Linked DNA regions of Homo sapiens: regions 2, 3, 4 and 5 are each linked to region 1. Evidence: fine-mapped expression QTL. A gene starts in region 1. Each other region holds a variant in brackets. All regions are shown on one strand. Distances are from middle to middle.

Region 1 (4,601 bases):
CTTTCCTACCAGAATAATAGCCTTATGTCCGAGGGTCAGGGAAACACTGTAGGGATTCTGCCAGTTTGGAGTATATCTATTCAAACTCTGCATTCTGGAACTGACGAAATAACTACAGTGTGAGTTTGGAAACCCAATGGGCTCACTGGGTATTGTGTGATCCTAGCTAAAACCTGGAAATAACCCAAATTTTCCATCAACAAATGAATAAACAAATTATGGTATATCCATACAATGGAATACTACTCAGAAAAAAAGAACAATAGATACACACAAACATAGGTAAATATCAAAATTATTGTGCCGACTGAAAGTAGCTAAACAAAAGGAGGACATACGGTGTGGTTCCATGTGTAGAAAAATCAAGAAAATGCAAACTAACCTATAGTGACAGGAAGCAGACTGGTGGTTGCCTAGGTATTGGGAATGGAGACCCAAGAGAGACAAATTCCAGAGGGTCCCGAGGAAATTCTGGGGTGGCTTAAGTGGGTCCATGACATTCAGTGATGTGTTGGTCATGACAGAATGGCAGAAGCAGAAACTCCATGGCAGTGGATTGAGAAATGATGAATAATGAGGAGTCAGTGGGTCCTATGTAACTGTATCCAGAGGCTTCCTGAGGAAGGACTAAAAAAGATACAGTGATATTGGTTAGCAACATACTTCATGGAATCTCCTCCTGGGTGCTGTTTGGGATTCCACTTAGCTTAATCCAATGAGCTTGTCCCCCTCCGCTCCTTCTCCTGCACTGATTCTGCTCCTGGAGTGGAATTTACCTGCTTTTCCTCCTTGCTAACATCTCCCAACCTTTATTTTCCAGAGCAAAATAAACCTTTTCCCCTTTCTCAAAATTTTCTCCCTTTCTCAAACCACACCAGTCCAAGCTAAGCTCTTCCACTTCAGGACTCTTATAAGGGCATTATTACCTGTATCACATTATATGACATGCTCAATTAAATTCTGCCAAAGTTGAAAAGTACTAGTGTTAAGTGTGTAGAAACTGGCATCAGACTATCTGAGTTTGATTCCCCCTTTGTCATGTAGTGGCTGTGTGACCTTAGTCAAGTAACACAGTCTCACTGTGCTTCAATTTCTCCAGCTATAAGCGGATATAACAGTATCTCCTGTTATGAAGATTAAAGGAGTTACTACTGTTACAGAGTTTAGAACAGTGTTTGTCACATCCTAAGCCCTAAGAATAGTGATAAAAATCAATTTCTGTTCCTGCTCCAGGAAGTTTCACGCTCATGGTTAAGAGGGATACAAAGATATATGTGGCATTTGCCCTAGACTCAAGGAGCCAGTAATTTCGTGCTGGTCGGATTTAGATTTCACAGCGATTTTCTATATGCCCTGGCCCAGAGGCCTCAGTACTTGGGCAAGTTTGGCACGAAAGGCCAGAAAGTCCATTTATAATGAATGGCCACTTTTTAGAACCTGTTTGCAAGGCAAAAGAATGGTGACTGCCAGAATTCAAGAGGAAGAAAGGGTGAAGCCTTTTTGGAGAACGCAGACGATGGCCTTTTTGCAAGGTTTTGGAAGATTTTCGTTTCAACGGACTAAAAACTACTGCCAATAGCCTCTAGACAGGCCTCGAAAGGCAGGGGAGGCCCTTCAGACCCCATTTCCCCACTGCCCGTGACCCTAAGGTGGGCCTGGCCTCAGGCCCCGCCCCGCCCCGCCCCTGCAGGGTATCTGGCCTCAGGCCCCGCCCCGCCCCGCCCCGCCCCTGCAGGGTATCTGGCCTAGGCCCCGCCCCTCCCCGCCCAGCGCCCCGCCCCTGCAACGTGTAGGCCTCGGCTCCAACGAGGCCCCATGGCTCCGTCCCCGCCCCATCGCCCCGCCCCTCCCGGGAGCCCTGTCTTCTGCCGTGCGCTGAGTGTCCGCGTCGCCCTCGCCGCAGTCGCGGGCACCCCGCTCGGCGTCGGTGCCTGAGGGAGGCCGCGATGGCGGCCGAGGCCCTGGCGGCGGAGGCCGTGGCGTCGCGCCTGGAGCGGCAGGAGGAGGACATCCGCTGGCTGTGGTCGGAGGTCGAGCGCCTGAGGGACGAGCAGCTGAACGCGCCCTACAGCTGCCAGGCGGAGGGGCCGTGCCTCACGCGGGAGGTGGCGCAGCTCCGGGCCGAGAACTGCGACCTGCGCCACCGCCTGTGCAGCCTGCGGCTGTGCCTCGCCGAGGAGCGGAGCCGCCAGGCCACGCTGGAGAGCGCGGAGCTAGAGGCGGCGCAGGAGGCCGGCGCACAGGTAACCGGGCGGTGGGGACACTGGAGAGGACGCGGGCGGGGCGGGCCGAGACGGTGCGCACCGAAAGGTTTTCAACTGCGGGGGCAGGTGCGGGGGCGCCCCGGGGGAGTGCCCTCCCAGTGCCCTGCGGCTGGCCCGCCCTGCCCTGCTCGGTGGTCCCGTGTGGCCTGGGGAGCCGCCGGATTTCCAGCAGTCGCCAGACTTAACCAAATGCTGTTGATTTCTCAATTCGTCCATTAAAGAGCCTGCCACGCATCTTTTTCAGTAGCAGAAATAGTGTTTTCATTTGTTTGAAAAAATGCTGGAGTGTTTAAAACTCATTCTTTCCTTGGTCAGAAAGACTAACAGCTGCGTATGTAAACTCTCATTCCCTCTGGTTCTTTTTTGTTGTTGGGTTTTTTTTGGACGAGAAGTTTTCGCTTTTTGTGCTCTTGTTTTGGTGGTTCATCTTGAGAGGATAGCTGTATATTTAACATTTTTATTTAATACAGTATTTTATGATTTGTAGAAAGGATAAATTATCTTCTTTTAACATCATACTTTCTGAGTCCTGAAGCTTCTCAGGCTGAGATGTTCTGCAGTCCTTTAGGAAGGACAGCTGCGGTGAACTAGCAACATCTTCAGGAAATAGTGCATTTGATGTGGCGGGCAGCAACCACACATTTTCCAGCCACATTATTTGTTTAAAGTTCAGGACAAAAGGTTTTCAAGAGCACAATATATTAAATGTGCTTAGCAACAGTGTGACAGGAAGGACTGAACCCTGGAGAATGACTTGCCCACTGAGAGCTGTAGCTGGTGGTCAGGAGAGCCCAGCTATGAGCCTCTAAACACGGGGCACTTGCAGCCTGCTGGCATGACTCTCTTCTTAAAATGTGTTGCTTTTTCTTGCCATTGATGTGAGTCATTTATAATTTATCTTTCAGCCTCCTCCTAGTCAAAGCCAAGACAAGGACATGAAAAAGAAGAAAATGAAGGAAAGCGAGGCTGACAGCGAGGTAAGTTGTTGCTGTGGAAACAATATAAAATACTACCTGTAATTTTAAATATGTGTATATAGTTAATTACCTAGGATTTCCAATAAAAATTACTGATTAAATTATTATTTGGGTCACATTAGTGTATTTAAAACTTTTCAAGCCTTAAATATGAGATGTCTTGAGAAATGAGCTGCCCATGTTTAATAAACACGTGTATTTAATCTATTTAAGTTGTGCTACTAGAGTACTAGAGTTGGTTTTTTTTGTTTGGTTGGTTTTTTTTTGTTTTTTGAAGGCGGAGGTTTGCTCTTGTTGCCCAGGCTAGAGTGCAATGGCATGATCTCGGTTACTGCAGCCTCCACCTCCCAGGTTCAAGCGATTCTCCTGCCTCAGCCTCCTGAGTAGCTGGGACTACAGGTGCATGCCACCAAGCCCGGCTAATTTTTTTTTTTTTTTTTTTTTTTTTTTAGTAGAGATGGGGTTTCACCGTGTTAGCCAGGAGGATCTCGATCTCCTGACCTCATGATCCGCCCACCTTGGCTTCCCAAAGTGCTGGGATTACAGGCGTGAGCCACCGCCCCCGGTCTTTTTTTTTTTTTTGTATTCGAGAAACTAGCTACTTTGCTTTTGTATATAAAGCATTAAAACAATCAGTAAGTATTTATCTAGCATCAACATTTGGTAGGAGTGAAGAAGGAATACCTAGGCCCAAAGAAGTTAGTCTGGTTGAGGAATTCAGGCAGACTCAGGACAAACAACTAGAGAACAGAGTACGATGGTATACAAGTAAGTGCTGTAATGTGTGACTCTGTACACGTTCTGTAAACAGTAGAAAAGGGAGGTGTCATGGGGGCTGGGCGTGGGGCTGTCTCAAAGGAAAAAAAAAAAAAAAAGGGAGATGCCAGCGGGTAAAATAGGTAGAGGAGGCAGGCTTTGAGGTGGACCTTTAGAGCTAAGGAGAAGTTAGATAGGCAGAGAGGAGCCTTTTGGAGGTGGGAAGTACACATGCTCTTAGTCTTACAGTTGGGTTATGTCCCAATAAAACCAATGTGAGTTAAAAATGTATTTAATACACGTAAGCTAGTGATCATCGTAGTTTAGCCTAGCCTACATTAAAAGTGCTCAGAACACTTAGATTAGCTTACAGTTGGGCAAAATCCTCTAACATAAAGCCTATTTTATTATGAAGTGTTGAATATCTCATGTAATTTATTGAATACTGTACTGAGTGAAAAACACAATGGTTGTATGGATACTCAAAGTACAGTTTCTACTGAATGCATATGACTTTCACATCACTAAAGTTGAAAAATTGCGGCTGGATACGGTGACTCACGCCTGTAATCCCAGCATTTTGGGAGGCCAAGGCAGGTAAATC
Region 2 (4,601 bases), 52 kb before region 1:
GTAGTGAGTATCAAAGGTCTCTGTCAGCTCTGAAAGTCCGAGATTTAAAGGCCCCCTAGAATGGAAACCTCAGGGCCAAGGGCTCCTGTCAGTCCTTTTCCACCCTATATCTGCTGTGAAGAACCGTACCTGGCCCGTACGGGCTCAGTAAATATTTATTGAATGAACGCACTTTTCTAAATCACAAGCTGGCAGAAGGAGGGGCCTTTCTCAAACTCCATCTCTAGAGGTTTATGTTACTCTCCTCTCAAGAGATTCCAGATTCCGACTTTGAGTTTTGTGGCTGTAGGTGAAAGCCAACAAAGACCCAAATCCTCTGTCCTTGGGAGCTTGAAGAGAGTTTACCAGTTCATGTTCCCATTGGGTCTGAGAACTTTGCCTTTAAAATCCATTCCTGGTCCCTGCCTACCACTTCCTGGTCTGGGGAATAGAGCTGAGGGGGCCACCCTCCATCACCTTAATTTGACTCTCCCCACAGGAGCAACAGAAGAAACAAGTGGAACATCAGCTGGAAGAAGTAACGTGATTTCTGTGTTTGCTCATGACATGACTGCTGGGTTTGGGGGGCACTCAGATGTAGAGGCCCCAGTCTCATCTTGTCCACTCCCAGCCTGGGAAAGAAGGCTCACCCCTCAGATTCCACCCCATCTCTACAGGGTCCCTGATAACCTGGTCCCACAGATGGGCCTGTCCTGGGGCATTGGTGGCATTCTGGGGGCATGTCTCTTGCTGTGCCATCTCTGCCTCCCCCTGGTAAGAGCTCTGTCTTCCTCTTTCTATAGGAAAAGAAAGCAAACAATGAGAAACAGAAAGCCGAAAGGGAGCTAGAGGTGAGTGGAGGGTGTGCAGTTCCCTCCTGTCCTCCAGAGAATGTTTCTTTCCTTCTCTTTCAGCACTTGCTTGGCTTTTCTCCCAAAGGTTCAAATCCAGAGATTGAACACACAGAAAGGGAAACTAAATATGGACCTATATCATACGAAACGTTCTCTCAAGTATTTTGAAGGTAGGAATCTGGGCACCCTGTCACCTTTCCGCCTGGCACTTTGACATGTCTTTAGGGAGAGTCCTTTGGGTCCCATCTCAAATCTCTCATTACAGATGAGTCCAAGGGTCTGGCCATTCGCCTGCAACATTCATTGCAGCGTATAGCAGAGTTAGAGCGGGCTCTCTTTGCTGTCACCACCACACAGGAGAAGAAGGAGGACAGTGTGAGTTCAGCCACTTGCCCCATCCCCTGGCAGCTTGGCTTCCTAGATGGAGGAGTGAGCCTAAAGTTCCCTTCTGCAGGATGGACTGTCCTGCCCAGAATGCAGCATGGCCATTTCCCGCTGCTTTTGTGTATGGTTGTTAGAGCAGCCTGGGGCTGAGTCAGCTGCTGTGGGTGAGTTGGGGGCCACTGTGGGGAGCAAGCACTGGACGCAGAGCTTGGAGGCCAAGTGCCTGCCCTGCCCTTACCTGGCTGTGGTGTTGGCCAAGTCCTACATAGGGTATTAGGTACTTCTACTGTGAAGGTACAGAAGAGTACCTTTAATATGTTACCATTTCTGTAGAGAGAGGAAACATGAGTGTGTGTGTGTGCACGTACTATGATAATATACATAAAACATGTGTGCAAGGGTTCATAAAAAACTCAGGAGAGAGCAACAGGGTGGCTGGGAGATACTTCCCTTCTGTACCTTCTGAGTTTTGGACTATGCGAATGTATCATCCATTCAAAAAGTGAACAAAAGATTAATTTTCCCCTTCCAATCTATGCCCCTACCCCCAGCAAGAAAAATGGGCTTAGAGAATTGCATAGACCTGGGTGTTCAAATCCCAGCTCTGCCTAAGTGATCTTAGGCAAGCACTTAACCTCGAATACTCCATGTGTTTTCATCTACACAATAGAGGTAATCATAGTAACTGTCTCCTATGGTGGTTGCAAGGATTAAATGGGATTGCCAGCATGGTA[T/C]CTGGTGAAGCACTCCATAAATGTTCAAACAGTGGTAGCAATAACAGTAATTACAAAGCAATATTATCTGATCTCTCTGGGCCTCTGTTAGCCAGCTGTAAATTCAATCTCTTTCCCTGTCCCTTCCAACTTGACTGAGTTCTTTTAAAAAACCATACCACGAGCTTGGAAAGGCCTTGATCTTTACTGACAAAGTTGTATACTGAGCCTAGCCCAGGCCTTTTAAGGGGCACTGTGTGGAATGGCCTGGGCTCTCCAGATCGAAACTTCTCACTCTTCACCTTCAGACCTTGAGCCGCAGTAAAGCAGTTATCGAGTGGTAGTTAGAGTGGTCCATACAGGAGCAGGCACTGCTGAATGCACACACTACATGGGTGAGGTTTTGCAGTGGGAGGGATGTGGAAGGAAGATGAGCCAGGTGGCCAGGAGCAGCTGAGGACCAGTGACAGCCCTTCCTAACTTCTGTGCCCATTCTTGCAGTTGAAGGAGTTGCTTAAACAAATCCGGCTAGAGAGAGATGAATATGCTCAACATATAAAAGAAGAGAGGGCCCAGTGGCAGCAGAGCAGCAGAGGATGAGGAAAATGTCGCAGGAGGTGAGATCTGACCCTTCAACCCCCCACCTTAGATAAGTCACTGGATCTTTCTGGGCATCTGTAAAATGGGAATAGTACAGCCAGAGGTGGTCCTGGGTCTGGGCTTTGTGGAGGTGGGGGCAGAGAGGGAGATGGCAGCCTGTCCAGCCACCAGCCCCTCTCTCCAGGGCTCTTTACCCCTGTGGTTTGGGCAGGTTCACACATTGAAGAAGGAGAAGTATGAAACACATCGGGGAGAGAAGCTGGAGAGGAGCTTGTCCAAACTCAAAAACCAGATGGGTAAGATGGGGCTGGCATGACCTGGGAGCAGGACTGGCATCAGAGGGCTGTGGGAGTGGCTTAGAATGCCCCAGAGAGGTGGGTCAATGGAAGGGCTTTGAGGCAGAAGGAAAGAGGTCTGTGCCAGAGACAGCAAGTCTTGTCATCTCCATGATCCTCAGTGTCCCCATCAGCAAAGAGGGCCCGTTGTCAGCCACCCACAGTGCTCTCTATCTGAAAGTGGCTTGGAAGATTGGCTACCATCTGGGTGTGAGGAATCAGTAGCAGTGAGGCCAAGTTCGGGGAGCCTGAGAGGAGCTGTGCACCAAGAGGAGGGTTTTTCTTTTGTTTGTTTTTTTGAGAATCCAGAGGCCTTTATTGTCTGCTTCCTTTCTCAGCTGAACCCCTGCTCCCGGAGCCTCCAGGAGTGCCCTCTGAGGTGGAGCTGCAGCACCTGAGGAAGGAGGTTGAGAGAGTGGCAGCAGAACTCCAAGCCCAGGTGGACAACAATAAGCGCATGAGTGTCCTGATATTGGGGCAAAAGGAGAGGCTTCAGGAGCAGGATGAGAGGCTTCGGGAGCAGGACGCGAGGCCTCAGCAGCTGGCCGAGCCACAGAGTAGCTTCGAGGAGCTGGTGCGTTGCCCCACCTAGGGAGCCTGCCCTCCTCCCTAGCCCTCCAGGCCTTTGTTTCCCCACCTGTAAAATGGGGCAGTGTAGCCCTCAAGTGAAACGTTACTTCTAAAGGCACCTGTGAGCCAGAGCCGTGCTCTGGTGGCTGTGGGAGACGGGATGATTTTTCTAACCTGCCTCCACCCTTCCCGGTGCCATGGGAGGCAGACACCAAGTTCTGGGGTCTCCAGCTGCAATGGGTGGCTGCTGATTGCTTCTCTCTGTCCAGAACAAGAACAAAAGTGCACTGCAGTTGGAGCAGCAAGTAGAGGAGCTGCAGGAGAAGCTTGGCGAGGTGAAGGAGACAGTAACCTCTGCCCCATCCAAGAAGGGCTGGGAGGCGGGCACCAGCCTGTTGGGAGGGGAGGTGCCAGGCCAGAGGCAGCACTAGCCTGTGGGCAGGTGACCTCAGCACCCTCCAGGGCAGTCCTGTGACTATTTCTTGCTTCCTGCCTTCTGACTTTTAGAGGTGGGTAGCCCTGGGCTCCTCCCAGGTCTAGACATCATCATCTCAGCTAGCGGCATGGAGGCCCCAGTCACAGGGGAAGAGACAGTGGTATAAGAGGCTCCTTATGCCAGGTGCAGTGGCTCACGCCTATAATCCCAGCACTTTGGGAGGCTAAGGCAGGAGAATTACTTGAGGTCGGGAGTTTGAGATCAGCCTGACCAACATGGTAAAACCTCATCTTTACTAAAATTACCAAAAAAAAAAAAATTAGCCGGGCATGATGGCACATACCTGTAATCCCACCTACTCAGGAGGCTGAGGCATGAGAATCACTTGAGGCCAGGAGGTGGAGATTGCAGTGAGCTGAGATTGCACCACTGCACTCCAGCCTGGGCCACAGAGTGACATTCTGTCTCCAAACAAAACAAAAAGGCTTCTTAGGTTAAAACTGGATTCCAGCCTCGGTTCCACTGGTCACCATTCAAGTACTTTGCATCTCTAAGTCTCTGTTCACTTAACTTCAGAAGGAAGTTAACATTTTCCTTACAGACGTGCTGAGGATTAACTGAGATAATACTTGGAAAGCATTAGCAGATGGTGGTTGGCTCCCAGTGCTTTTCCACCAGTCTGTGGCCTACAGTTTAAATGGTGAGAAGAGGATATGAGATTTGAGGCTGG
Region 3 (4,601 bases), 89 kb before region 1:
AGACAAAACTAAAAGAGGGTTATTAGGTCATTCAAAAAATATGAGATTCTGTGTAAAGTTTACTCAAAGACAGAGCCTACACAGAGGGCAAGGTGGATTTTTTTAAGTTAAATACATTTTTTAAATCAGAAAGGAAAGAGATGAGAAAAAAAGAAAAGGGGAAATTGAATTATTGAATTCAACAGGAGACTAAGATGGTTCATTAAGTGGAAAATTGTGATAAAGGGGAAGAAATAGCAAAGTAGGAGTTTGTGTAGATGTGCAATATTAAAAGCTCCAGTGCCCCAAAATATTTCCTTTAACATTAGAGCTGCTTTCTTTTAGGTTAAAAAACTGCAGCATTAGAGTTGTTTTCCTTTAGGTTAAGATACTAAAGTCCCTTGTTTTGCTTACATTGCTACAGGAAGGATACTCCATTGAGCATTGCAGACAAAAAAAATAACAGCTGGCTTTCCTTAGTGGAGATCGCATGCATGCAAGACATGAGACTCTTAATGATGAAGAAATAAGTGATCCATTTTTAAGCTGAGTCATTACCCAAGAAGGATTATCAAGGGCTGGTTGCTTCAGGAGACAGAGTAATAGCTGAAGGGCTGGGTAGGAGAATAAGAGTCGCAGGAATGAAGCCAGAACTGAGTAAAAGAATAAATTGAGCTAAACACAAAATTTACCTACTTCACAATCCCTCATAAAGCAAAGATGAGAAAATAATACAAAGAGCAAATGGCAGCAGATCTAAAAATTTACTCAGCTTTTGTCCTCTTGTCTTCACATTTCTTAAGTATTAAGTATTCATCTTTGGGTCGCTGAATGGCTTCCAGGATGACACATTGGGTTATAAGTGTTTGATTATTTTGATGCATCCCAAACCCTCCATGGAAAGAATGTGTTCTCTCCTAAGGCCATTGCCATTAGGAGATATCCTGCTTTGAGTTCCCTAGTTCTGGCCTGGCTATTGCTCTCAATAATTACAATGACATGAATTATAGTTATCATCTATTTACACTAAACAATTGTGATAGTGTGACAAATACAGATAGTCTAGCATTTGATGGAATCATTTAAATTTAAATTCACCTAACTGGAATTGCATGGGATCGGAATTGGGCAACTTCTTAGAATAGATTTATGATCACTACATTTTAAAATTTTCTTAAAAAGATGTTCATTATTCTCAATCAATAAACTCAATGAGCTGGAAAAGATCTGAGACTACGTTCTGAACCAGTTCCTTTATTTACCCATCCAGGAAATGTCAGTTTTTCCCTCAGTTTTCAAGGTTCAAAAATATATTTCTTAGCTATTATGAACAGGTATCATGCATTTTTTTTTTTTTTTTTTGAGACAGATTCTCACTCTGTCACCCAGGCTGGATTGCCATGGCACAATCTCGGTTCACTGCAACCTCCACCTCCTAGGTTTAAGCGATTCTGTAGCCTCAGCCTCCCGAGTAGCTGGATTTACATTCATGCACCACCACATCTGGCTAATTTTTGTATTTTTAATAGAGATGAGGTTTCACCATGTTGGCCAGGCTGGTCTCGAACTCCTGCACTCAACTGATCTGTCCACCTCGGCCTCCCAAAGTGCTGGGATTACAGGTGATGAGCCACCGTGCCCGGCTGTGTCCTGCTTCTCATTAACATAAAAGTCCAAATGTTCTCTTACAAAAAGGAAATCTCCATCCTTTCAACTAAGCTGATATCCACTTAATTCATCCCCTGTGGATATAAAGAAGTTGTCAGGTACTCTGTCAGATAAGTGCTTAATATCCTTGATGTTGGTAAAAGCAAATAAAGATCACTCATCTGTACCCTCTAGTTTTATTCACCTCAATTTGCTTTAGCCTTCCTCAAAGGATCCATCTTCTACCTCTTTATCTTGTCACTTTTGTCTAATCACTCCATTTCACTACCTAAACTTCTCATTATATAGACCTAAAAATTTATCATAAATGTTTTGAAAACATGAACAAGTATAGGAGGATTTATTGCAGGTTGTTAAACATTACACATTTAGTTTCCTACTTTTTTTTCCTCCATTCTTCAATCAACTAATTTTAACAGACACTACATTTTTTTAGTTCAGGGTGAGTTAAAAACCCAGATGTTTTTCTTCCAAATGTTTTCAATTATTCCTTCTCCATCTTGAGTCCATGAAACTGGAATTTCATCTTTTAAAGCTTCACTTATGACTAGTATCTGATGAACTTTCTCCTTTTTATATCTTGGGTCTTCTCTAGAAATAGAAGTAAACAACAAGCTTGTTAGGAAGACAACAAGCATGTTTGTCTTCATTTTCAGGGCTAATAGATTTCCCCAAAAGTCTCTGGATACCACAAACAACTTTACATGCATCCTAGTCCTGCCCTGAACCAAGCCACAGTGCAGACTCCAGACTCTGTAGTGTACTCCTTTGCACCTTTGGATCTCCAAGTCATTTCTAAGTTTTAGTTAAAAACTAAGGTTAATTCTTGTTCTCCCTTTCCAGGTAATTCATATTTATGCCTTTCCTGTGATCACCATTTCCCCACCACAACCACCTGTTTCTTTCTGCCCCAGGCTAACAAACTGTTACCTGAGTCTTTCTTGCAGCTGAAGTTTATCTAGTTTATCATGCTCCC[A/G]TTGTGAACTTCATGCCATCCTTACCTTGTAGCTATTTACAGACTATCATCTCAAGCACACAGAGGTATTTAAAATCTTTATATAAATGGAAAAATAGCTAATTAACTGCACTGGAGGATAGTGACCTAATAAAGCTATAATGACCTGGGACTGCAACTCTAAAGTCAATGAGCCAAGAAATTGTCTCCTAGAAATACATGCAAAGCAACAAAGAAGAAATGTTGATAATGAGTCACAGGAGAAAGGAATGACTCTAGAATCTCTAAGAAAAATCAATCTCCACCACTTTATATTTTTCTGGATTATTTTTCTTTTTCACTTTTATTTTAAGGTCAGGGGTACATGTGCAGGTTTGTTACATAGGTAAAGGTGTGTCATGTGGGTTTATTGTGCAGATTAATCACTCAGGTATTAGGCTTAGTACCCATTAGTTATTTTTCCTGATCCTCTCCCTCCTCCCAACCTCCAATAGGCCCTAGTTTGTGTTGCTTCCCTCTATGTGTCCATGTGTTCTCATCATTTAGCTCCCACTTATAAGTGAGAACATGTGGTTTTTGGTTTTCTATTCCTGAGTTAGTATGCTAAAGATAATGGCCTCCAGCGCCATCCATGTCCCTGCAAAGGACACAATCTTTAACAATTTAAATCCTATCATGATAAATGAAAGTGTCTCTAGATAATCTAATAATATCCACTTCCCAAGATATTCATAAAAATCATATGGAATCCTTTTAAATTTTATCTATAATGAATAAAGTAGGCAAGTAAAAGAGTAAGCTATAAAAAATTTTAGTATCTTATAATGTGACTTTTATAAGTTATAAATGTAGCATATTGTACCAAGCACTTTGAAGATATAGGCTTTATCTAATTCACATTCATTTTTTCCAAAGCAACTTGCAGTTTCCTGTAATCAAAGAAGACTATATTCATTGAATTTAATAAAAGAATCCAGCTGTTGAAGTAATTCCATTATCTTTTACTGTGTCTGTCATCAGGAAGCAGGAATAATATGAATAAGGATTGATTTCAAAATATTAAGAGGAAGCAACGGGACTTGTGTGGTTTTCTAACCTTAGGTGTAATCATGTGTCTCTGTCCATGGTGCTTAATGATCATTGGTTTACAACAAGCATTGATCAATTGATCAACAAGCAATGATCACTGGGTTACAACAAGCACTCTTGTTTTTCTTGTTTATCCCCTTTAATTTCCGTTCTCAATCCCTTTCTCTCAAAGACAGTCATTCTGGTGTTTTTAAGTGTGTCTTGCTTTTGTGTTATCGTGAAACATGTAGTATTGTTTGTATGCATATACATAGAAAATGGTATTCTATATCTCATTCTGATTCTTTTTTTCCACTTGTCTCATGTTGCTATATGTACATCTAGTATATCACTTCTAAATACTGCAGAGCACTCCATGGTGGGTATGCACCACATTCTGCCTTTCTGAGTACTCAGATCACCCCCAAGTTTTTCAGGGTCACTGATTGGATTAAGCAAGTATTGGACCTTGCTTCTAACTTCAACCCTCACATACCAACAATGTTAATATTTAGCTAGAAGACACCAATGTAATAATACCAGTTGTAAAAAATTAAAATACTTGCACACTGGTTAGAATATAGCCACTGTCACAAGCCTCTTAAGGTTCCAACCGCTTCCAAGTTGCTTCCTCAGAACTCCTTATGAATCAGCTACTAAAAGTTAATGCCTGGAACAGCAGGAGTCTCCAGGATCTTGCTCCAACTCTGGGACCAGCATCTGTTCTGATCAATGCAGTTGTTTAATATTTTGAAGATCATATCTTCCCTATACCAAAACCAACACTGCCGTGGACACCTTCGACATTGTCTCCCTAGAGATCAGCAATGACAAGGATCATGTCTTTTAAAGCATTATGAGGCATTGATCTTTTGAAGTAGTGAGAATTATTTTATTAACCACTGTTTTGTGGTATGGGAAAAACTGCAAA
Region 4 (4,601 bases), 38 kb after region 1:
TTTAGATGTTTTTAAGTGGCCAGATCACTAGGTATGGGTAGAGACTCAGCTCCTTCAATAACCTAAACTGGTATTTCCAGGATGAAATATGATTTTTAATGTTCCAGATAAGTTATCTGGATTTCTTCAGGAGACTGGACTGAGCTGTGAACTGCTCAGTCACTGAGAGTTTACTCTTTCCCAGCATTAGAGAAAGAAATTAATGGCATGGCATGAGACATATTTTACTCCCCAACTTTTTCTCTTGAAAAGTTCAAATCTAGAGAAAAACTAAAATGCAATGCAATGAACATCCATATTTCCTTCATTTGGATTCATTAGTTGGTAATATTTTGCCAGTTTGCTTTATCTCTCTGTTATTTATATGTGTGTGTGAGAGACAAAACAATATGTATATTACAATATGGAGAGATACAGCAGCATAATATATATAGATATCTCCTATATATTTATGTAAAAATATAATAGTTGCTGACACTTCATCTCATAGGGATTATATTCATTAGTTTGTGCTGCTATAACAAAGTACCCTAGACTGGGTAGCTTATAAACAACATAAGGGTATTTCTCACAGTTCTAGAGGCAGTAAGTCTAAGATTAGGGTCCCAGCATGGTTGGGTTCTGGTGAGGGCCCTCTTCCAGGTTGCAGACTGCTGACTTCTTGTAACCTCAGATGGCAGAAAGAGGACCAGAGAGCTCTCTGCGAATCCTTTTATAAGGACACTAATCTCATTCATGAGGGCTCTACCCTTATGACCTAATCACTTGTCAGAGGCCCTACTTCCTAATACCATCACCTTGGGGTTAAGGTATCAATATCACAATTTTGGGGGAGACACATTCAGTCCATTGCAGGGATAGTTTAAAATCATTTCTAAACATCTCAAGAAGACATACATTCCTAACATGGTTGCATTCAGAGTGAATTAAAAATGCATTGAGCAGTATCTCCTGAGCTAGACTTTAAAAGTAGTTTTTAGTAAAAGCGAACACGCACACCCTGCCACACACACACCCACACACTCACCCTTAATTTCTGGGACCTTGTTTAATCTGAATATATGGAACCATCTGAAATAGCCAATAATCACTGCCATTCTTAATGACATCATTTTGTTAAACATTTTCTTTCTTTTTTTGAGATGGAGTCTAGCTTTGTTGCCCAGGCTGGAGTGCAATGGCGTGACCTTGGCTCACTGCAACCTCTGCCTCCTGGGTTCAAGCGATTCTCCTGCTTCAGCCTCCTGAGTAGCTGGGATTACAGGTGTGTGCCACCACGCCTGGCTAATTTTTGTATTTTTAGTGGAGATGGGGTTTCATCATGTTAGCCAGGCTGGTCTCAAACTCCTGACCTCAGGTGATGCACTTACCTTGGCCTCCCAAAGTGCTGGGATTACAGGCGTGAGCCACCACACCCTACCTGTTAAGGTTTTCTAATTTAGTAAAAACAAAGGATAGGTAAAGCAGCTCACTGAATGGCCGAGACCTAAGCTGTCTACCGTGGACTGCCAGGATGCCCTGCTGAAGAATAACAGACAACATTCCTTTCAGTTGTATAAAACCATTGTTAGTAATCTTAAAATGTTATGTTTTATGTTTTTTTAGCTGTGAAAACAGTTTTTCAAATGTGCTCAAAGTATACATGGCATTCTAGATTTGGGCCAGATGTCCATTAAGTGGTTTACAAATGTTGAGAATCTAAGGATTCTCAGAATTCTTACTTATTCAGCTTTTTGTGTTCATCCAAATTAAAACTGTCATGCAAAGGGTCCCTATCAAATTACTGTCAAAACAATTTGACCTAATTGACATTTGTAAAACAACAGCAGAATATGCATTTTTGGAAAGTGCACATAAAATATTTACCCAACAAAGATCACCTAATTGTTTTGTTTTTAAAGAAAGTTTAAATAAAGTTAAAACTTTGCTTGGAAAAAAACTCTCTTCTCCTGTCTCCAGTAATTCAATTAGGGAAGCTGTTAATAGGTAGGGAGGGAGAGAGGCCAGCTCATGACTTAATAATTTCAACTACTTAAATCGTTATACACTAAAATTCTTATTTCTGTTTAAAACTAAATAAATCAAAATTATAACATGCAACATGGCATTCAGGCTTATTAAATTATAAATTTTTTCTGCCTCTTAATAGGAAAAAACCTGTTTAGAAGGACTTTGGAGTAGTTACAGTGAGTTTCTATATATATTGTATTTCAATTACTACTTTTCAAAGAACTAAAACATTATATACTATATACTGTTATATGCTATAAAATAAATATACTCAATAGAAATTATACTAAGCATATGTAAATCTTTCTTCCAAGATCCAGAAACCACCACACCTAAAACTGAGGGTACATTAATCATGAATTAATATAGGACATGAGCCCAATTTGAAAATATTTGCTCAT[A/G]GTGTTACTTTGCATGGAATTGTGATCTGCCCTAGCAGATTTTAATGTTGAATGCATGTATCTTGAAGGAGGAATATCACAAACGGGACTTCACGGAGGTGCTCTCTCCCAATATGTACAACAGTAAACTCTGGGAAGCCTCAGGCCACTGGCAGCATTACAGCGAGAACATGTTTACCTTTGAGATTGAAAAGGACACTTTTGCCCTCAAACCCATGAATTGTCCAGGGCACTGGTGAGTATTAAAAGCGAAGCAGACCTTTTCATGAGAGCACATAGCACGCTTCGTCACAATTATCTTTTAATGCTTTGTGGAATGAAAGAGTCCCTTTAATCTGAAGAGTGGTGATTACTAATTTTTACTAAGTTGTTTCATTCCGGAGAATGGATTTACTTTTGAAAATATATTTGATCTTTGGCAGGTATGGGATGTTAGCTGGTAACCATTGCATTTTTTTGTGCTGATTAAAGGATAATGTTATGTGTCAATTTTATAAGTTTTATAATATTTGTCTTTCTTATAGTAATGCACTTCACATGTTCATATTTGCAGAATATTTAGTTCTTTCATACTGTTTGGGTGGATTATAACAAGATCAATGAGGTCATAATCAATGGGTTTCTGGATTTCACTGATTCCAAGATACCATTTTTCTTCCACATTTCAACATTTCTGAAGTTGAAATGCATCTTATAGTTGGTGGCATCTTAGCATTATATCATAATTTAATTAATAGGTTATTTTCTTTCTTTGTAGCACATAAAATGAAGATACATTTTACAATCAATGCTGTCTTTGATTCTATGAAAGACTAATTATCATAAAGTTGGTATGCAAATTCAACCTTGTAAGACAAACATATTGTACAACTGAAACTGAATAGGCATAATTGTCCACAAAAAACAATCCCAACAATTGTAGTTTTTGTATTATCAACATACATAGTTTCAAGTAAATTTACCTAGAAGATAATTATTAAAACCGGTAACTGAACACTGAAGAAAGCTCTTTGCCCTTTTAAGTGAAGATGAGAAGAAATTTAACTTTATGATGATGTCATGTAAAAAATATATATAACTTTAATTTTAGGAACACCGGTATGTAAACATTCTGTATCCTCTCTTTCTAAACAGAAGGTAGAAGCTATGCTAGTGTTTTGCATTGTAAAACACTTGTGTTAACAATTTCTTAACTCATCTTCTCAAAGGCATCCTTTAAAATTATAGCCTCGTACTTTATAATGAAAGTAGAGAATTTAAGTTTGTCTTTTTACACCTCAGAATAAGAAAGCAAGACCACGGTGGCTTAGAGGCAATGGGATATGGAAGCTAGGAGTGCTTTCTGCAGGAGAGAAGTCTTTCATTCAACAGAGAACATAGTTGAGTGCTTTTTGTGCTTGGAGCTAGAAGTGCAGAGGTGATTAAGACACAAACCATTCCCTCATGGAACTCATGAGCAGAGTGGGCAGGGCCATGCATGTAGACAATCTGTTATAAAAAGACCAGTGCCATAATGATGGCATGTTTGAGGTGTTCCAGGAACGTGAGGAGAAACTGCCTAGCCCTGTCTGGGAAATGTCTAGGAGGGCTTCATTTAAGAAGTAGCCTTTGAAATGAATCATAAACAGTAAATGGTGATTCACTGTGTGGATAAGGGGAGGGAACAGCATTTCTGGGAAGAGATAATAGACAAGCATCTTTCTCAGAGTGCTGCAGTGATGTAAATGCAAGGTTCACTAATTTGTGGAAGAATTTTTTTTTTAACCTGGTGATCTAAGAACTAGAATAAGGAGTTTATGAATCTTGAGGCTTAATTGTAATTTCTTTATATTTAGATAATTATTTAATATTTCTGTGCTGTGTAAAAGCTGTGTGTTACCACATCTTTTCTAGTCTAATGTTTGCCCATCGTCCACGATCTTGGAGGGAAATGCCTATTAGATTTGCTGATTTTGGAGTTCTGCATAGAAATGAACTGTCGGGGACTCTCAGCGGCTTGACCAGAGTGAGGCGCTTCCAGCAGGACGATGCTCACATTTTTTGCACAGTGGAGCAGGTAAACAATAACACAGAGTGAAGCAGTGTGGTCACAAATTGAGTGTGATGCCCCGCACACATCTTGTATTCTTTCAGAGTTACTGAAACATAGACGTTTGGTCTAGTCTCTGAGATTCATTCAGCTCTAACCTG
Region 5 (4,601 bases), 99 kb before region 1:
AAGTGGAATATTTTTGTTTAGTATATTTGTGCTGTTTTGTTGGCAATAGTGATAACTACTCATTATAACTAATCCCTGAAAATAAGTAAATGTTAACTCAAAAATTAACTCTAATCATTTTATCATCTCTAGAAAAGCCACTGTGCCAAATTTTTATTACAGTTTAAATGGTAGAAGAATGTATACAACACTTCATTTTTACATAGTCATATGCTGTGTAGTTATGGATATGTACCAAGATTTAGCTGTACAGAAATTCATTCCGGTGTTTAGAGCTTAATAGAAAATGAAACAACTAAAACATCCAGCAGTTGATGATAAATTTAAAAGAGTATTCTACATCCATACAATCGAATTCTCTAAAGCCACTGTAAAGCAAGTTTGATATCTATACAGTTAAAGACAACCACGACACACCATTGAGTGAAACAGTGGATACCAATGCAGCACACACTATGCCGCTGTGCATACAAATCGGAACAAGTAGACAATAAACTTTTTGCAATAAGCACTTTTGACAGTGAGATTGTTGTGCAAGAAAACAAGGTATTTTTACTTTCAATTTTGTACACTTGTGTCAGTCAGGATCCTGCCAGGACAAGAGACGCGACACTCAAGTTAGGTAACTGAAGAAGAGCTTAATAAAGGCACAAAACTGGGTGGAGAAGGGTCAAGAGTGACACTGGAGAGACAAATGGAAACTGGGCTATTGTTGTCTGAACCCACTCATTTTTTATCCGGGGGACAAACAGGGCAGGACAAATAACATCAGGGCAGAAGAAAGTTGGCAACATAGAAGAAATAAGCTGTTATATCTTTGCAGAGTAATCTAAACCCAAAATGGCAGCCTCCGCCAGTGTATTTCACATGAATCACTTAGCGGGAATGGAGGGGAAGAAAAAGGTGATTAACATGAAACATGGCTGTTGAAATCCTCTTTCCTGTAGCTCACCATGAGGACTATTTTGATAACAGCCATTTCATTGCTTCATTAGATGAGCAGATTCTGGGTGGTGCAGTATGTGAAGAGGCCAGTAGATCTAATGGTCATGTCCTAACTCTCATACCTCCATATCTTTAATGTGGTATAATATGACATCTTGTGGAACTACATGTCATGTGTTAATTACTCTGTAATCTTTAGAAAAATGATTGCTTAAGCCCCTGAAGCTTTGTGTTGTAATTATCCAACTGGTGCTTGCTATGAAACTCATTTTTTCTCTTTTCACCACCAATTTTTCTAATACCTGGGTATGCCAGGTAGTATGGCCAAAGAAGTAAGGCTATCTGCACAAAGTCTAGATCTTTTACAGCAAAATCTTTTTCATATTTGCGCCCTGCTCAAAGCTGACAGACTTTCATGGCTTTCAGCATATGGGTTGTGGTAGTATTCCTGATTATAGCCTATGCTTCCTCCAGAAATGGAAGAAATCTACCAGGTATAGTTCTTTCTTATTAGTGACAGAAGGTGCAAGATGCAATAATTTTCCTTTGATTAAAAGAACAAACCTGGAGGCATCACATTACCAGACTTCAAATTATACTACAAGGCGATAGTTACCAAAACAGTATGGTGCTTATATACAAGTAGGCATGTCGACCAATGGAACTGAATAAAGAACCCAGAAATAAAGTCAAATATGTACAGCCAACTGATCTTTGACAAAGCATACAAAAACATAAATTAGGGAATGGACAACCTATTCAATAAATGGTTCTGAGAAAACTGGTAAGCCATGTGTAGATGAATGAAACTGGATCTGTGTCTCTCACCTTATAAAAAATCAACTCAAGGTAAATCAAAGACTAAAATATAAGACCTGAAACTATAAAAATTCTAGAAGACAACATCAGAAAAACTTTTCTAGACATCAGCCTAGACAAAGAATTCATGACTCAGACTTCAAAATCTAATGCGACAAGAACAAAAATAAATAGGACCTAGTTAAACTAAAAAGCTTCTACACAGCAAAAGAAATAATAATCAGAGTAAATAGACAACCTACAGAATGGGAGAAAATATTTGCAACCTATGCATCTGACAAAGGACTAGTATCCACAATCTACAAGAAACTCAAGTCAGCAGAAACTAAAATAATCCCATCAAAAAATGGGCAAAGCACATGAATAGATATTTCTCAAAAAAAGATATACAAATGGCCAACAAATACATGAAAAATGCTCAACATTACTAATCATCAGGGAAATGAAAATCAAAACCACGAGACACCACCTTACTCTTGCAAGAATGGCCATTATTAAAAAGTCAAAAAACAATAGATGTTGGCACGGTTGTGGGGGAAAGGGAAGACTTATACACTGCTGGTGAGAATGTAAATCAGTACAACCTCTATGGAAAACAGTAAGGAAATTCCTTAAAATGCTAAAAGTAGATCTAACATTTGATCCAGCAATCGCATTACTGGGTATCTACCCAAAGGAAAATAAGTCATTATATGAAAAAGATACTTGCACATGTATATTGATAGCAGCAGAATTCGTAATTGCAAAGATGTGGAAAACCAACCTAAGCCCCCATCGACTCATGAGTGGATAAAAAATATATATACCACGGAATACTACTCC[G/A]CCATTAAAAGGAATGAAGTAATGTCTTTTGCGGCAACTTGGATGAAGCTAGAGGCCATTATTCTAAGTGAAGTAACACAGGAGTGGAAAACCAAATCTTTATGTTCTCACTTATAAGTTGTAGCTAAGCTATGAGTAAACAAAGTCAGACAGGGTGATATAATAGACTTTAGAAAATCAGAAGTGGGAGTGTGGGAGGGAGGCTAGGGGTAAAAATCTACACGTCAGGTACAATGCACACTACTCAGGTGATGGGTGCACAAAGATATCAGAATTCACCACTATATAATTCATCCATATAACAAAAAAAAACCCCTTGTACCCCAAAACTTACTTGAAATAAAAAAAATTTTAAAGAAGGAAAAAACATTTTCCTTTGCTTTGAAAAGGACCTCCTAGCATGGACTGGGCCATCAAACTCAAAATTTTAATGATGTGACAATTTCACAGTTCTCTATAGAGTTTATTCCTTCTCTTGAGAGCATATGTGTACTACTAAAGTATCTAATACTTGCCACTCCTTCATCTGGTTTGACAGCATAGTGTTATTAATATAATCGACCATTAAGACAATCTATAAAATATCCAAATGGTTCAAGTCTCTTCAGGCTATTTTATGGTACAGTAAGACAGCAAACGTATATGTTGTCCATTCCAAGTGAATGCTGTTTCTAATTCTACTTTGTGAAAGAGATGGAAGAGAAAATTTACCAGATCAATGATCACATATTATATACCCAGGTCTATGTTAATCTGCTCTAGCAAAGGTACCACCTTTGGCACAGTAGCTGCAATTTAGATTACTACTGGGATAAGTTTACAATAGTCCATTGGCATTCTCCAGGAAGTGACTAGCTTTCATAGGTGACACACTGGTGAATTAAATGGAGATAGAATGGGAACTATTTCTGTATCTCTGGGATATTTTTACCCCTTCATAATGAAGTATAATTTTTGAAATACTATTTTAGGCTGGGCATGGCAGCTCACACCTGTAATCCCAGCATGTTGGGAGGCCAAGGCATGTGGATGACTTGAGGTCAGGGGTTCAAGACCAGCCTCATCAGCATGGCGAAAACCTGTCTCTAATAAGAATACAAAAATTAGTTGGGTGTGGCGGCATGCGCCTGTAATTCCAGCTACTTGGGAGGCTGAGCCAGGAGAATCGCTTGAACCCAGGAGGTGGAGGCTGCAGGTCGTGCCCCTGCACTCCAGCCTAGGCAACAGAGCGAGACCCTGTCTCAAAAAAAGAAAAAAAAGAAAAATACTATTTTATACTGGGGGATAGGACAGTTTTGGTGACTTCCCTACCATAATAACTGTAACCCACAGGACAAGGAAGAAGTGTGGAGTTGTACAAACTACCAAGTATATCTTTTCCAATTATACATTGAGGAAATGATGTAAGGATCACTGGGAGGTTGTCATTTGGTGAACCCAACATGCACCTGATCTGAACTAGGACTCTACATACTACCAAATGTGTCCACTCAAAACAGCAGTGATGACCCTTCAGGAATCTGGGAGTAAATGTCAACTCTGAGTCCAACAGTCCTTTAAATATTGTGATATTCCTTATTTTTCCTGGTGTTTAATTCTACAAATAAATGGTCATAGGTAAGTTTGAGCAAAGTACTGGTAGATCATTACTATGTGTATGTGTACTTAGAGTTGTTGCACAGTCCTTCCTTCTACCATTTATTAAATCAGCCATGGTGATGCTATGTCCTCCCACCCCCTCCAAGAAAGGTAGAGTTAGGAATTATTTAATATCTTCTGGAGACTTTAGACATTTTCCTCTATATCGGAGAAATTCTGGCATTTCAACTTCCCTGATTGTAGTGACAGCCTACAACAAAACGGCTGAATGGGTATACATATACAAAAAATTTTTGTAAATTAATTGACCCCATAAATGCTGGGTTTGGTGGTAATGACGTCACCCAGTAGAGGGCCCACAAATAGGGACTGCTTTTAAGTAAAGGAGCTATCCTGATACGTTTTATTGCCAGAGA

Alleles and levels. Positions count from the first base shown, and alleles are read on the strand shown. Sizes are in standard deviations (SD) of each study's normalised expression. Not every link is listed here.
With allele A in place of G in region 4, the expression in anterior cingulate cortex of the gene that starts at base 1,861 in region 1 is lower (moderate effect, 0.44 SD a copy in GTEx).

The links. PIP is the estimated chance that this variant, and not a neighbour inherited with it, causes the effect. A credible set is the group of variants that fine-mapping cannot tell apart.
Region 2: its variant is the best candidate, but not a certain one, in a credible set for the expression of TARS3 in whole blood (INTERVAL, PIP 0.63).
Region 3: its variant is the best candidate, but not a certain one, in a credible set for the expression of TARS3 in whole blood (INTERVAL, PIP 0.79).
Region 4: its variant is the best candidate, but not a certain one, in a credible set for the expression of TARS3 in anterior cingulate cortex (GTEx, PIP 0.56).
Region 5: its variant is the best candidate, but not a certain one, in a credible set for the expression of TARS3 in whole blood (INTERVAL, PIP 0.52).

The regions. Positions count from the first base shown.
Region 1 is chr15:101,721,733-101,726,333 of GRCh38, reverse strand. TARS3 (threonyl-tRNA synthetase 3) reads left to right here and starts at 1,861. Exons shown (of 19, transcript NM_152334.3): 1 at 1,861-2,243; 2 at 3,170-3,241. The coding sequence starts at 1,947. RefSeq lists a silencer at 1,576-2,465.
Region 2 is chr15:101,774,119-101,778,719 of GRCh38, reverse strand. It overlaps the pseudogene GOLGA8VP. Among named protein-coding and RNA genes, the nearest start is that of OR4F6, 27 kb to the left of the region's middle. The variant T/C (reference allele first, on the strand shown) is at 1,952.
Region 3 is chr15:101,810,249-101,814,849 of GRCh38, reverse strand. It overlaps OR4F15 (olfactory receptor family 4 subfamily F member 15), which reads right to left and starts at 2,648. Exons shown (of 2, transcript NM_001001674.2): 1 at 2,578-2,648. The variant A/G (reference allele first, on the strand shown) is at 2,624.
Region 4 is chr15:101,683,941-101,688,541 of GRCh38, reverse strand. TARS3 (threonyl-tRNA synthetase 3) reads left to right here. Exons shown (of 19, transcript NM_152334.3): 11 at 2,480-2,646; 12 at 4,305-4,467. Among named protein-coding and RNA genes, the nearest start is that of TM2D3, 34 kb to the right of the region's middle. The variant A/G (reference allele first, on the strand shown) is at 2,412.
Region 5 is chr15:101,820,910-101,825,510 of GRCh38, reverse strand. No RefSeq gene overlaps it. Among named protein-coding and RNA genes, the nearest start is that of OR4F15, 11 kb to the right of the region's middle. The variant G/A (reference allele first, on the strand shown) is at 2,587.